3 linked regions of the Homo sapiens genome follow. The protein of the gene in region 3 purifies or fractionates together with the protein of the main gene of each other region. This does not show direct contact. Each region holds a gene or a part of one and is shown on either strand. Other genes may lie near its edges. The genes, in order: ACTR3B, ACTR2 and CHURC1.

Region 1 (3,752 bases), on a different chromosome or scaffold from region 3:
TGCTGGGATTACAGGCGTGAGCCACTATGCCCGGCCTAAGCTCTTTTTCTAAGACACGTGTGCTCACGCATGCGTGCACACACACACACTTTAAACACAATTGGAATGTCTCATGTCTGGTTTGGGATTCTACATATAATACAATCCTAAGGTTATATTTTGCGTATTAATTTAACCCTAGTTTTTTTCTCTTGTGGTTAAATATTCTGTGAAAATACATTTAAGAAGTACATAATTTATTTTTCTGTTGTTGGACATGTATCTTGTTTTAATATTTTTACCACTGTCATGAGCTGATATTTATTTAACAGTATTTTAGAAAATGTTACGTGTAATGCATAGAATATAATAATTGTGAATAGTTTATGTATTAGAAAGCTAATATTATTTTTATGGGTTTAAGTTGAGTTTTAGTAATTTATACTTTTATCTCCATCTTAAAATACCTTACAAATACTTGGACTCTGCAGAAAGGCTACTTTTTTTGCTTCTAGAAGTTACGTATATCAGAAAGAAACCATAGGAGGAATTCAGTAAGTTGTTCTTGCAACTTTACTGGTGACTAGGTGCAGCTATTAGAATGAATACATCTGTAAAATGAAGTCAGCGTTTCACTTCTGTTCCCTTCTGTCTCACTTGGGGACTGTGGCACAGAAGCTGTGATGTGCTGTAACGTGAAACCTGAGTGTCTTTACCGGATGATCCAGCGGTGGGCGTTGTCCACTCTGACGGTCAGCATCCTGCTCATCCCCTGGAGAACAAGCTGGATGTGTGTCCAAGCCTGTGGCTCCTGTGGCAGGTCTGTGCCCACAGGAAGGCTGATGAGGGAGCTTTGGGCCCATCATTGCTGTGGGCATGTGGACACTTGACACTGGCCCTGCCATTGATCGGCCCAGGGCGTGGTCACCCTCCTTTCCTGGCCCCTCACAGACATGCCTTCACTGGCTTAGGGAGGCAGTGGAATGAGAGGCTCCCAGCCCCCAAAACCAGTGCTGTGTGCTCGACACACGCAGTTTCATCTGAACTGTATCATTGGCCCCAGCAGGGTATTGTTTGCCTCATACGATGGACAAACGCGCTGAGGCTGAAGCATGTGAAACTTGCAAATGTGGAGCTGGGATTTGAGTCCAGGTTGTTAGAATCTAAGCCCTGTGTATTAACCAAATTGCTGACTTTTAAACGTAAGTAGATTTATAGTTGGCTTAACAATTTATAAATAAAACTTTTTCCTTTTTATCAGGGAAAGAACCTATTGGGTTTAGTGTTCTTACAGACAGCATTTCTTTTTGGAAATGAACTATCTTATGTGGTTTTTCTTTTCATATTCCTAATGAAATCATTTTGGTTGCTTTTAGAGAGTGTCAGGTTATTGGAATAATCTGGAATTTTGAATATTAATGGAATTGCATATGCAGTCATTTTGAAAGACCTTCTGTACTGAGCTTGCAGAGGGTGGGGATTATGTAAATGCTTGTCAGTGCCATGAGGGGCAGACAGGGAGGCTGAGGCAGGAAACCTTGTGAGTCCAGGCTGCTCTCCACCACGAAATCACTAACACAGCTGTTCTGCCTCCTCTTCTTCCCTAGGCAGAAGGTTATGTAATTGGAAGCTGCATCAAACACATCCCGATTGCAGGTAGAGATATTACGTATTTCATTCAACAGCTGCTAAGGGAGAGGGAGGTGGGAATCCCTCCTGAGCAGTCACTGGAGACCGCAAAAGCCATTAAGGTAAAAACAGATGGGAAACCGGCCGGTTTGGGGGTGAGAGAGATGGTGTTCTGGACACTTCCCCTTGGTGCCATCATCCCTGCTCCTCCTTTCCTTCCTCTCCCCTTCCCATGAATGTGGGGCTTGATTTGTTTTACCCCTTAAGTGGGCTGAAGATGTAAAGCTTAACCTCTTCCAAACTAGATGCTTTGAGGTTTCAGCTGTCACTGAGAACAGCTTGGTAGCTGGTGCAGCGTACCAGCGTGCAGAGGCAGCATTGTTCAGCTGGAGCCTCACTGCTGGAGCCTCATCTACCAGAGGGCTCCTTCCATACTGCCTCCATGCTTCGCTGTAGAATCAGGAGGCGACCACAGCAGCAGAACACTGCCACCCTAGGATCCAGAGCTATTGCACAAAATTCACACACAGGTGTGGCTGTGACGTGTGGCCATAAGCATCTTCTTCCTTTATGGCACAGTTTCTGAGTGTAGCAGAGCTTGATGGGGGTGAGCCCAACACCCACACTTCTCCTCACTGCCTTCCTCCCTTCTCAGCACCTCGTAACTGAGGCTGGCTGAAGGAAAGGAAGCACCAGAGATGATTCCCGAGGTGTTTTTAGGTCAGGAGGCACTGGCATGAGGCAGGCTCTGCAGTTGGGTATGACCTGCCCTGCTTTACCTGGGACCAGAGATTCCTGGGAAGGGGGCTCTCAGCGCTGAAATGGTGATGTGGGGAAGACGTGGTCCCTTCCATCTCAGGGGAAGGTTTCCTGAGGTATCATTAGATATTCTTTTTTAGACTAAAATATTTCCTAAGGGGTCACCTTCTCCTTTCTTTGCCTTTCCTCCATGGAAGAATATTTGACTATTTGATCCAAGCTCCCTTGCCACTCCAAATCTGTTAGAAATGTAAGTCAGAATTGAGCCCCTTCATAGTGGCTCACATCTATAATCCTAGGGCTTTGGGAGGCTGAGGCTGGAGCATTGCTTGAGGCCAGGGTTCGAAACTAGCCCAGGTGATATAGCGAGATCTCGTCTCTATTTCAAAAAAGAAAAAAAAAAAAAGAATTGAGCCTTTTGTTATTGACGCCCAGGGTCCACTCCAGTGAGTCTGAGTCCTCCCTATTTCCGCCAGGATTGCTGAGCAACACTGCCACGGAGGGGCTTTCCTGACCCTCATGCTGGGCCTTCAACTCTCCACACGGGCTGTTGGGGTTCCAATTTGGACCCTGAAATCTGGGCTGATGTGCTCGATGTGACTGTGTGTCTCCCCCCTGTGAAGGCTGGGAGTAAAAGAGACTGTTCATAGCCTCCGAGTCAGCTGCCCTGGCCCTGCTGTGTGGGGTAGCCCTGTTAGTTCTCACCTCACTTCTCTCTTTGAAGGAACAGATCCTGAAAGGCGTGGTTTAGAGCTCCCCCCGCTTCCCCTTACTGCCATGGCCTTCTGTGGTTGTGAACAGGCCTGAGGGAGTGTGTAACGTGAGCACACCACCCTTGCAGCATGAATCCTGAACCTTAAGGTTAAGCCTGTTACTCTGCACCCAACTCAATGGAAACATTTCCTAGCAAGCATTTGAGTTAAGTAAGCTGAGATGCTGTAGGATGTTGACCAGGCCTGTGAGGAGAACTGAATGCCTTTGTCTCCAGTCTTGGTAGATTTGAGGTTGTAATCAGCTGACCCTGTTTCTCTGTGTCATCAAAGAACACAGGGTTGTGTAGCACTTCTTGCCTGTCAGTCTTCTTAAAATTCCGCTAGAGTATATCCAAGATACCCAGAAGATGGCATTAGAATATGTTTCAGGGATGCTAAGAAACTTTAAACTTAATACCACGAGAGCGTCTTTGGAGGTCCTTGAGAGAGCCATTCCTTCCACGGTGTGCTCAGCGCCAGCTGGGCGGCCCACCTCGTGCTTCCCGTAGGCAGCAAGTATCTGGGGGTCACCTGCTGCTATGCGGAGGCCAGCTCTAAGGACACATATCAACACAAAGGTGTCCAAGAACATTCATCTTACCAGATACCCAGGAAACACTTCGCATCCCTCAG
Region 2 (3,752 bases), on a different chromosome or scaffold from region 3:
CTGGTACAAAACAATAGCAATAAGTTCATAATACATCTGAATGAGTTCTACTCTGCAAAAGCTAGTAATGCTCATTAAATATGTCACATCAATAACAAACAGAATGGGCAGTGGATCCTCAGCTCCTACTATTTCAGAAGCAGGATTTTATCCGCCATAAAAGGATTTATATTTCAGTTTCAGAGAGGGTAAAAGAATTAACAATTCATAAGTAAGTCAGTAAAATGACTAGAAAAGTCAGTTTTTGAAAAGCACTGCATGAGTACTAATGTTTTGATAGTTTTGATAAACAATCAAAAGTATATTAATGAATAAATATTATTTTAGTACTGGACTCCTGTAGCCTGCAGTTTGCTCACACAATTAATGCCATATTTATGAAATGCCCCCAAGTCTTTAAAAGTTTTATCTTTAGCTTCTAGTACTGTGTCTGGCACATATTAGAAGGACAATAGCATTTGTTTAACGAATGATAAGGGAATTATTGGGATACTCAAAGGTATAATCTCCATTGTTACATTTCTTAAATGCTAGAAAATACTACTATTTTTTTAAAAACCCACTGAGAGAAAAAAAATTACTAGACTTTACAAATAAAAAAAAAATCCTCTAATATTTGAGTCTGTGTTCTAAAGACAACCCCAGAAATTCTGTTAGTTACGCTTTGAATTTTGGCCTAAAATGAGAGTATTATAATTCTCATTAATTTAATCTCCCCTCATGAGGAGGATTACTTTAAATGAGACTGAAGGAACCCAATGTCAAGGTAAAGACAGTGCAACCCAATTTAATGCAGAGACAGGGTTTCTTAATAGCAGCACCACTGACAGACTATACATTGTTTGTTGTGCAGCCAGCCCTATTCATTATAGAATGTTCAGTAGCATTCCTGCCCAGCTCAGACAACCAAAAATGTGTCCAGAAATTGCTAATATCCCCCAGAGGACAGCACTGTCCCCTGGTGAGAACCACTGTCCTGGAGAGGATAGACTGATTATAGAATTGTGGTATAAACAATTTTCTAAATTTTATTTTAATATTAAAAATGATATATGTTAGCAAGTAGACACCTTATGTACTTTCTCCAGTAATGTTTTAAAGAAAATTATAACTAGTTATATTCAGAAATAAACTAAAATAGTAAATATTAAAAACTGCATCTATTCCATGAAAACTACTAAATATTAAAGTCTGGCGTATTTGGGCTGTTTTCCTCAAATATCATTAATTTGCTATCACTGTATTTTGTAGGAAAGGACAAGAGCAGACAACCCAACCAAGATCATGGCTTAAAACATACCTGCTCAAAGAAAGGTTTTATGGCAGAAAAGGCTGCCTGAGCTGTCCAAGAAAGTTTCAAATTAGGGGTCTCTTCTATCCTTGAAATATCTGTCTACTCACTCCTCAGGAATAACAAATATAATTATGTAATGATATAATGTACTCTCATTAGTATACAGAGATCATGTGTGTACACTTTTTTCCTTGTTTTTAATGTATCTTCTTTTTTCTTCATGTGTATAAATCTTATATGAATTTTTATATAAATAAGGGAGGTAATTGGATAATTTCTCTAGTGGTACAGATTTGCTGGAATCCTAAAACGATAGATTCAATTCTGTGTTAAGGTGGTAAACAAATTACAAAATTTAATTTCCATGATATTTTCCTTTCACTTACCTTGATAAGATATCTAGTTATATCCCTCCCAGCAATATCCAGTCTCCTGGTAAGATGAGGGAGAGAAAAGCCTTCATATACTGGGCAAATGTGAGTCACACCATCTCCAGAGTCTACCACTACACCAGTCAATAAACCTGCATAAAAGCCAGGGGGATTTAAATAAAAAGTCAAATCAGGAAAACCAAAGCCAGCGAGTTCCAAATACAGTAGGGAAGCCAAAACAGAAACGTAACCAACTAGAAGCCAGAATTTATTATTTAGTTATTTTGCAGTTTGTTTCTAATGCATAAGTATTAAAGCGAGTGTTCTCTTTTAAGACTTTTAGTCTACTATTATGTGCTGTCCAAGGAGATGAGAAGAAACAGACCCTGAGACTGAGGACTGAAAAACAGGACTTTTTTTTCCTTTTTTTTTTTGAGACAGGGTCTGGCTCTGTCACCCAGGCTGGAGGAGTACAGTGGCTCAATCTAGGCTCACTGCAATCTTCATTTCCTGGGTTCAAGTCATACCTCCCACCTTAGCCTCCTGAGCAGCTGGGACTACAGGCATGCACCACCATGCCTGGCTAATTTTTGTAATTTTTTTGTAGAGACAGAGTTTCGCCATGTTGCCCAAGCTGGTCTCGAACTCCTGGCCTCAAGTGATCTGTCTGCCTTGGCCTCTCAAACTGCTGGGGTTACAGGCGTGAGCCACCACACCCAGCAGAACACGTTCTTAAAGCTCTGTACAATTCTTTATTTTTTTCAACTTAGATAGTTTTGAATATACTACAAATAACATATACTGTGTGTTCTGGAAAAATGCCTATTGATACTAGACAGCTAGAAATCTAAGAAAAATTAAACATGGCTAGCCAAAGCATCACTTTGATTATTCACTGGAACTTATAATAAAAGGCAATGTCAGTTAAACCTCATAATAAAAGAACAGCAAAGAAGCTGCTTTGTTTCCCCTGTTTCCTCAACCTCCTGGGCTCAAGTGATCATCTCACCTCAGCCTCTCAAGTGGCTGGGATTATAGGCATGTGCAACCACACCCAGCTAATTTTACTTTTTATAGAGATAGGGATCTCACTATGTTGCCTAGGCTGGTCTCAAACTCTGGAGATACAGCAATTTGACCACCTTGGCTTCTCAAAGTGCTGGGATTACAGCCATGAGCCACCATACCTGGTCAAAAAAACTTTTTTTATTTATTTTTATTTACATATTTTTTTTGAGACAGAGTCTCACTCTGTCGCCCAGGCTGGAGTGCAATGGCACAATCTCAGCTCACTGCAACCTCTGCCTCCTGGGTTCAAGCGATTCTCCCGCCTCAGCCTCCCAAGTAGCTGGGATTACAGGCACATGCCACCATGCCCAGCTAATTTTTTGTATTTTTTTTTTAGTAGAGACGGGGTTTCACAGTGTTAGTCAGGATGGTCTCGATCTCCTGACCTCGTGATCCACCCACCTCGGCCTCCCAAAGTGCTGGGATTACAGGCGTGAGCCACCACACCCGGCCTAAAACTACCTCCTTTTTAAGTGGATATAATTCCTTGATGCAATAAGCCTCATAAAACTCATATACAGCCCTTGAATGTTGTACTCTTTTAAAAAGAAGAGGATTTCCATTGCAAAAAAGAAAAAAAAAAGGAGGAATTCACACCATCATCAATTCAAAAATACTCCCAGGAACACTGACTAATGCAAGAATTTACATTTTATTTCCCAAAGAGCCCTCCCTACCCACCTCACCTTATTTTCTACCACTTCCATCAGGTCACACACATACTGGCCTTTCTCCAAACACACTTGACCCATTTCCAGTGCCACACTCTTTTCCCACTGGATTATCCCCTGAAGTGCCTAAAAGACTCCTTGGCACATATCTGACAGGCCCAGACATTCTCAGTAAGTTCCTGTTGAATTTATAAGACCATAAAAAAAAAAAAGAGCTCTCCCAACGTGGCCAATATTTTATTTCCAATAAAGAGGGAGGCAGTTGCTAATGGCAATATCAAGAGAATATATAAGTAGTCCCCTCCATTAAACCCACCTCAAAAGTTAGAAATGCACTCCCAAATGTTT
Region 3 (3,752 bases):
CATGAGATTCCTGAGGAAATGCAGTAGGGGTAGCATTAGAGAGGGGTAAATAAAAATCTTTCTCTCTAACAGGAGAGAAGGAAGAGTAAAGTTGGGACAATGCTAAGTATGGTGTACATATGAAAGAGTAGCAGGAAATAAAAGAAGGGAAGCTGGGCCAGTCCAGTGAGAACCTTGAAATGAGGAGCTTGGATATTGTACTGTAGCTAAAGGTGCACTATGGGAAGGCCAATGAGGTCACCCAAAAGTATTTATTTTTACTTTTTAGTAGAGACAGGGTCTCACTATGTTGCCCAGACTGTACTCAAACACTTGGACTCAAGAGATTCTCCTGCCTCAGTCTCCTGAGTAGCTCGAACTATAGGCACACACCACTGTGCCCAGCTTTGAAAACATTATTTTAAGAAAATTAATATGATGGTAGAGTATGGAGTATGAATTGACGGCGGGGGGGGGGGTGGGGGGAGAAGTAGACTGGGAGTAGAGAGTCTAGTTTAAGAATCATTTTCACCACCATTTCATAGTTTCTTGCATCGTGACTACAAGCCACCTTCCTTTACCTTCTTCCTGTCCCAGAGTAATTTCCAGGGCAGCTTTGAAAACGGCTGCATTCAGTCAAAAAGGAAAAATCAGCTAGACTTTGGTCTAGCTAATTTACAATGGCTTGGTTAGGACATAAACAGGCAACCTCAATATCCGTTCAGGAGCTGTACATAACTCACGTGAAATTCAGGAGTGTCTTGAAAATAGCTATAAGCACTCCTTTCCTCCCATAAAAGAATAGGACTGTTTCTTTAAGCCCAGGAGATGCTCATCTCCCTATGCGGCCACTACTCATTCACTAAGATGTCAATTTTGCCCTAAGTTACGCATATCATATAAATATTTCTTGAGGCATAATTTTTGGATGCTGAAGAAATATAAAATATAGTCAAGATGTTATTTTAGATTAACCACAACATATCAGACCAGACTCTGACAGGTGACTAAGCACTTTCTTCCATGCTAAAATAAGGAATAAGAGGGGTTTTACTATCTTATGATTCTGCTATGGAAGATTATTATTATTTTCCTAATTAAGTACTATCCAAATGTGAAGGGAATTGAAAAAATTCTCTCGGCTGTTAAAAGCTCTAGCCTGATATTTATATCCTATGGACAAATATGTAGTTCACACAAAATAAGTAACTCAACCTGAAGGCTTGAAAACAGGCAGTGAGGGACAGAGATAGGTTTCAGTTTGTCCCTGGCTCTCCCCGACTGCCCAGCTTTTCTTTCTGACCGTCAGACCTGTGTATCTTCAGCAACTACAGGCCTATATCAACCTTCCAGAGAATTCTTCACATACTCTCACAATTGTGTAAGGATTAATCCTTATGATAAATCTCTTAATCTCCAGCTTCACAGTGGTTCTGTGTTTCTCCTCCAACCATGGTACACACAGCTTGTAATTTTACTTAACAATACTATAATGTCTTACCACAAATGAGACTGCAGAGTTGTTCAACTCTACATGTCAACTTGGGAAAACAAAGAAAACCTCCTTATCACAGTTTCCATGCTGGGCAAGTATGGTGGCAGTTGACAGGACACCACTTAAAAGCCCACAACTGTGCAATCACGTAACTGGGCAGAAAAAAAGCAGCACAATGGTAATCTCATAAGAAGCTAGAATGTGCTACTATTCTTTATAAACAAAAATGACAGGGCTGAGATATCATTTGTAAACTACACATTTTGATTTGTGATTCTCGTGAAGACAGGTTTACACAAATCCACCCACATCTAAAGTCTGTCTCTCAACTTGCACAGATATAAGAAAGGCATGGGGCTGGGCACAGTGGCTCATGCCTGTAATTCCAACACTTTGGAGGCCGAGGTGGGAGGACTGCTTGAGCCCAGGAGTTCAATACCAGCCTGGGCAACATAGCAAGACACCATCTCAAAAAAAAAAAAAAAAAAAGGCATAGTCTCCTTTAATATATGCTAACGCTTTGCACTTCACTTATGAAAACCGTATTTAGATTCTCAAGAGCACTTTTATTATTCCCCTAACCTCCCCATATTTATATTTATACCCATATTTATATTTACCTGAAATTCATCCATGATACTGAATGTATACTCATGTCTGGCTATTACATGATGACAATTCTTACACAAATCTGCTAAAACAAAGAGAGACTTACGTAATTAAGTCTTAGAGAGTTTCTTAAAACTTCTATTAAAATTTCTATTCTCAGCATATTATTTAAAGAGAATCTTAAGTCTGTCATATTTAACATAGGAGGAAACCCATTATAGTATCTACCTTGATTTTTAAAAGATTCAGAATCTGCCACATAACAACGTTACATAATTCTGAGTCTGAGCTTTTATTAATTGCCACCAAAAGTTCTTTAAGAGAAGCAGTTAAAACATATTTAAGTGTATTTTTAAACTAGCTAGATCAATTTCTTTTTTTTTTTTTTTTTTTTTGAGGCCGGGTCTTACTCTGTTGCCCAGGCTGGAGTGCAGTGACACAAACATGCCTCACTGCAGCTTCAACCTCCCAGTCTCAAGTTATCCTCCCAAATCAGCCTCCTGAGTAGCTGGGAGGATAACTTGAGCCCAGGAGAGGCTCAAGACATGTGCCAACACACTCAGCTAATTTTTTTGAATTTTTGTAGAGGTGAGGTCTCACTATGTTGAGCAGGCTGGTCTTGAACCCCTGGGCTCAAGTGATCCACCCTCCTGGGCCTCCTAAAGTCCTAGGATTATAGGCGTGAGCCACCGCACCCATCCCAGCTGGACCTATTTAACTATGTAAAAGCTTTCATTATCATGAATAATATAAACTGTGCTACTATATCCAATCATAAATAAAAACCAAAGCTGGGCATTAAAGTGAATTTAATGGTAACAAAATAATCTAGTAAAAACGATGATTTATTGAGTGCTTACTATTTTAAATATTTAATCTTCTAAAAAACCCAATGAGGTAGATAGTATCATCACCACCTTTTTAGAGATAAGGAAACAATGGCATACTTCAGTTAAGTAACTAGCAAGACGACTGAGCCAGGATGTATTGGAACCAGAATTCAAACCCAAACAGCCTAGCTCCAGGGCCCTTGCTCTTAAACCACTATGCCCTACTGCCTGGAATGAAATACAGCTTAAAGAAAACATATGCTAAAAAGAAAGAAAAAGATTCTTCTAGCTTAGAACATTTATTATTATCTGACTCCATTCTAAAGGCCTGCTGTCTTTCAAACTCCTCTGACAAAATACCATTACCTGTACATTTATTCCTCATGTGTTTAGAAGGTACCCAAGAACCAGGAGACAAGCAAAAAGGGAATGTGAACAGTTAAATACTTCTCACAATATTGGGCACTGAAGTATACATATACTTAACTTACAGAAATCCTTAGTGCTAACCTCAGAATTGATTTTTTTATACATAGTTTATTTGGTTTCCCAGTATTGAGGACGAGAAGAAGGATAGGAAGGCAGCTTATTATTTAGCAGCAAAAGTAAGGAACAACAGACTGACAGTGAGATTGGAGAAGAAAAAAAAAGCTAGACATTCTGAGCAGAAACAAGACTGAAAAAAACACTGCATTCCTGAAGTCATTTAGTATAGGGACAAGCAGCCCTAAACACTTTAATAGCTGTTGGAGGATATCATGGTATTATACTGTAGCAGAAAAGTGAAAACTCACATGGATGACCCTAAGGTCACAATAATAACAATAATAAAAAGTATA

What was found.
Region 1: the proteins of CHURC1 (region 3) and ACTR3B purify together in Homo sapiens (affinity purification with mass spectrometry; 3 studies listed by BioGRID and IntAct, with this or other methods). This does not show direct contact.
Region 2: the proteins of CHURC1 (region 3) and ACTR2 purify together in Homo sapiens (affinity purification with mass spectrometry; 4 studies listed by BioGRID and IntAct, with this or other methods). This does not show direct contact.

The regions. Positions count from the first base shown.
Region 1 is NC_000007.14:152,818,713-152,822,464, forward strand, and holds part of ACTR3B (actin-related protein 3B), read left to right. Parts: intron 1-1,586; coding exon 1,587-1,730; intron 1,731-3,752. UniProt on the Homo sapiens protein: Plays a role in the organization of the actin cytoskeleton.
Region 2 is NC_000002.12:65,251,793-65,255,544, reverse strand, and holds part of ACTR2 (actin-related protein 2), read right to left. Parts: intron 1,818-3,752; coding exon 1,681-1,817; intron 1-1,680. UniProt on the Homo sapiens protein: ATP-binding component of the Arp2/3 complex, a multiprotein complex that mediates actin polymerization upon stimulation by nucleation-promoting factor (NPF).
Region 3 is NC_000014.9:64,924,423-64,928,174, reverse strand, and holds part of CHURC1 (protein Churchill), read right to left. Parts: intron 2,169-3,752; coding exon of another isoform or gene 2,166-2,168; coding exon 2,095-2,165; intron 1-2,094. Other genes in the region: CHURC1-FNTB protein, read right to left, coding at 2,095-2,165. UniProt on the Homo sapiens protein: Transcriptional activator that mediates FGF signaling during neural development. Plays a role in the regulation of cell movement.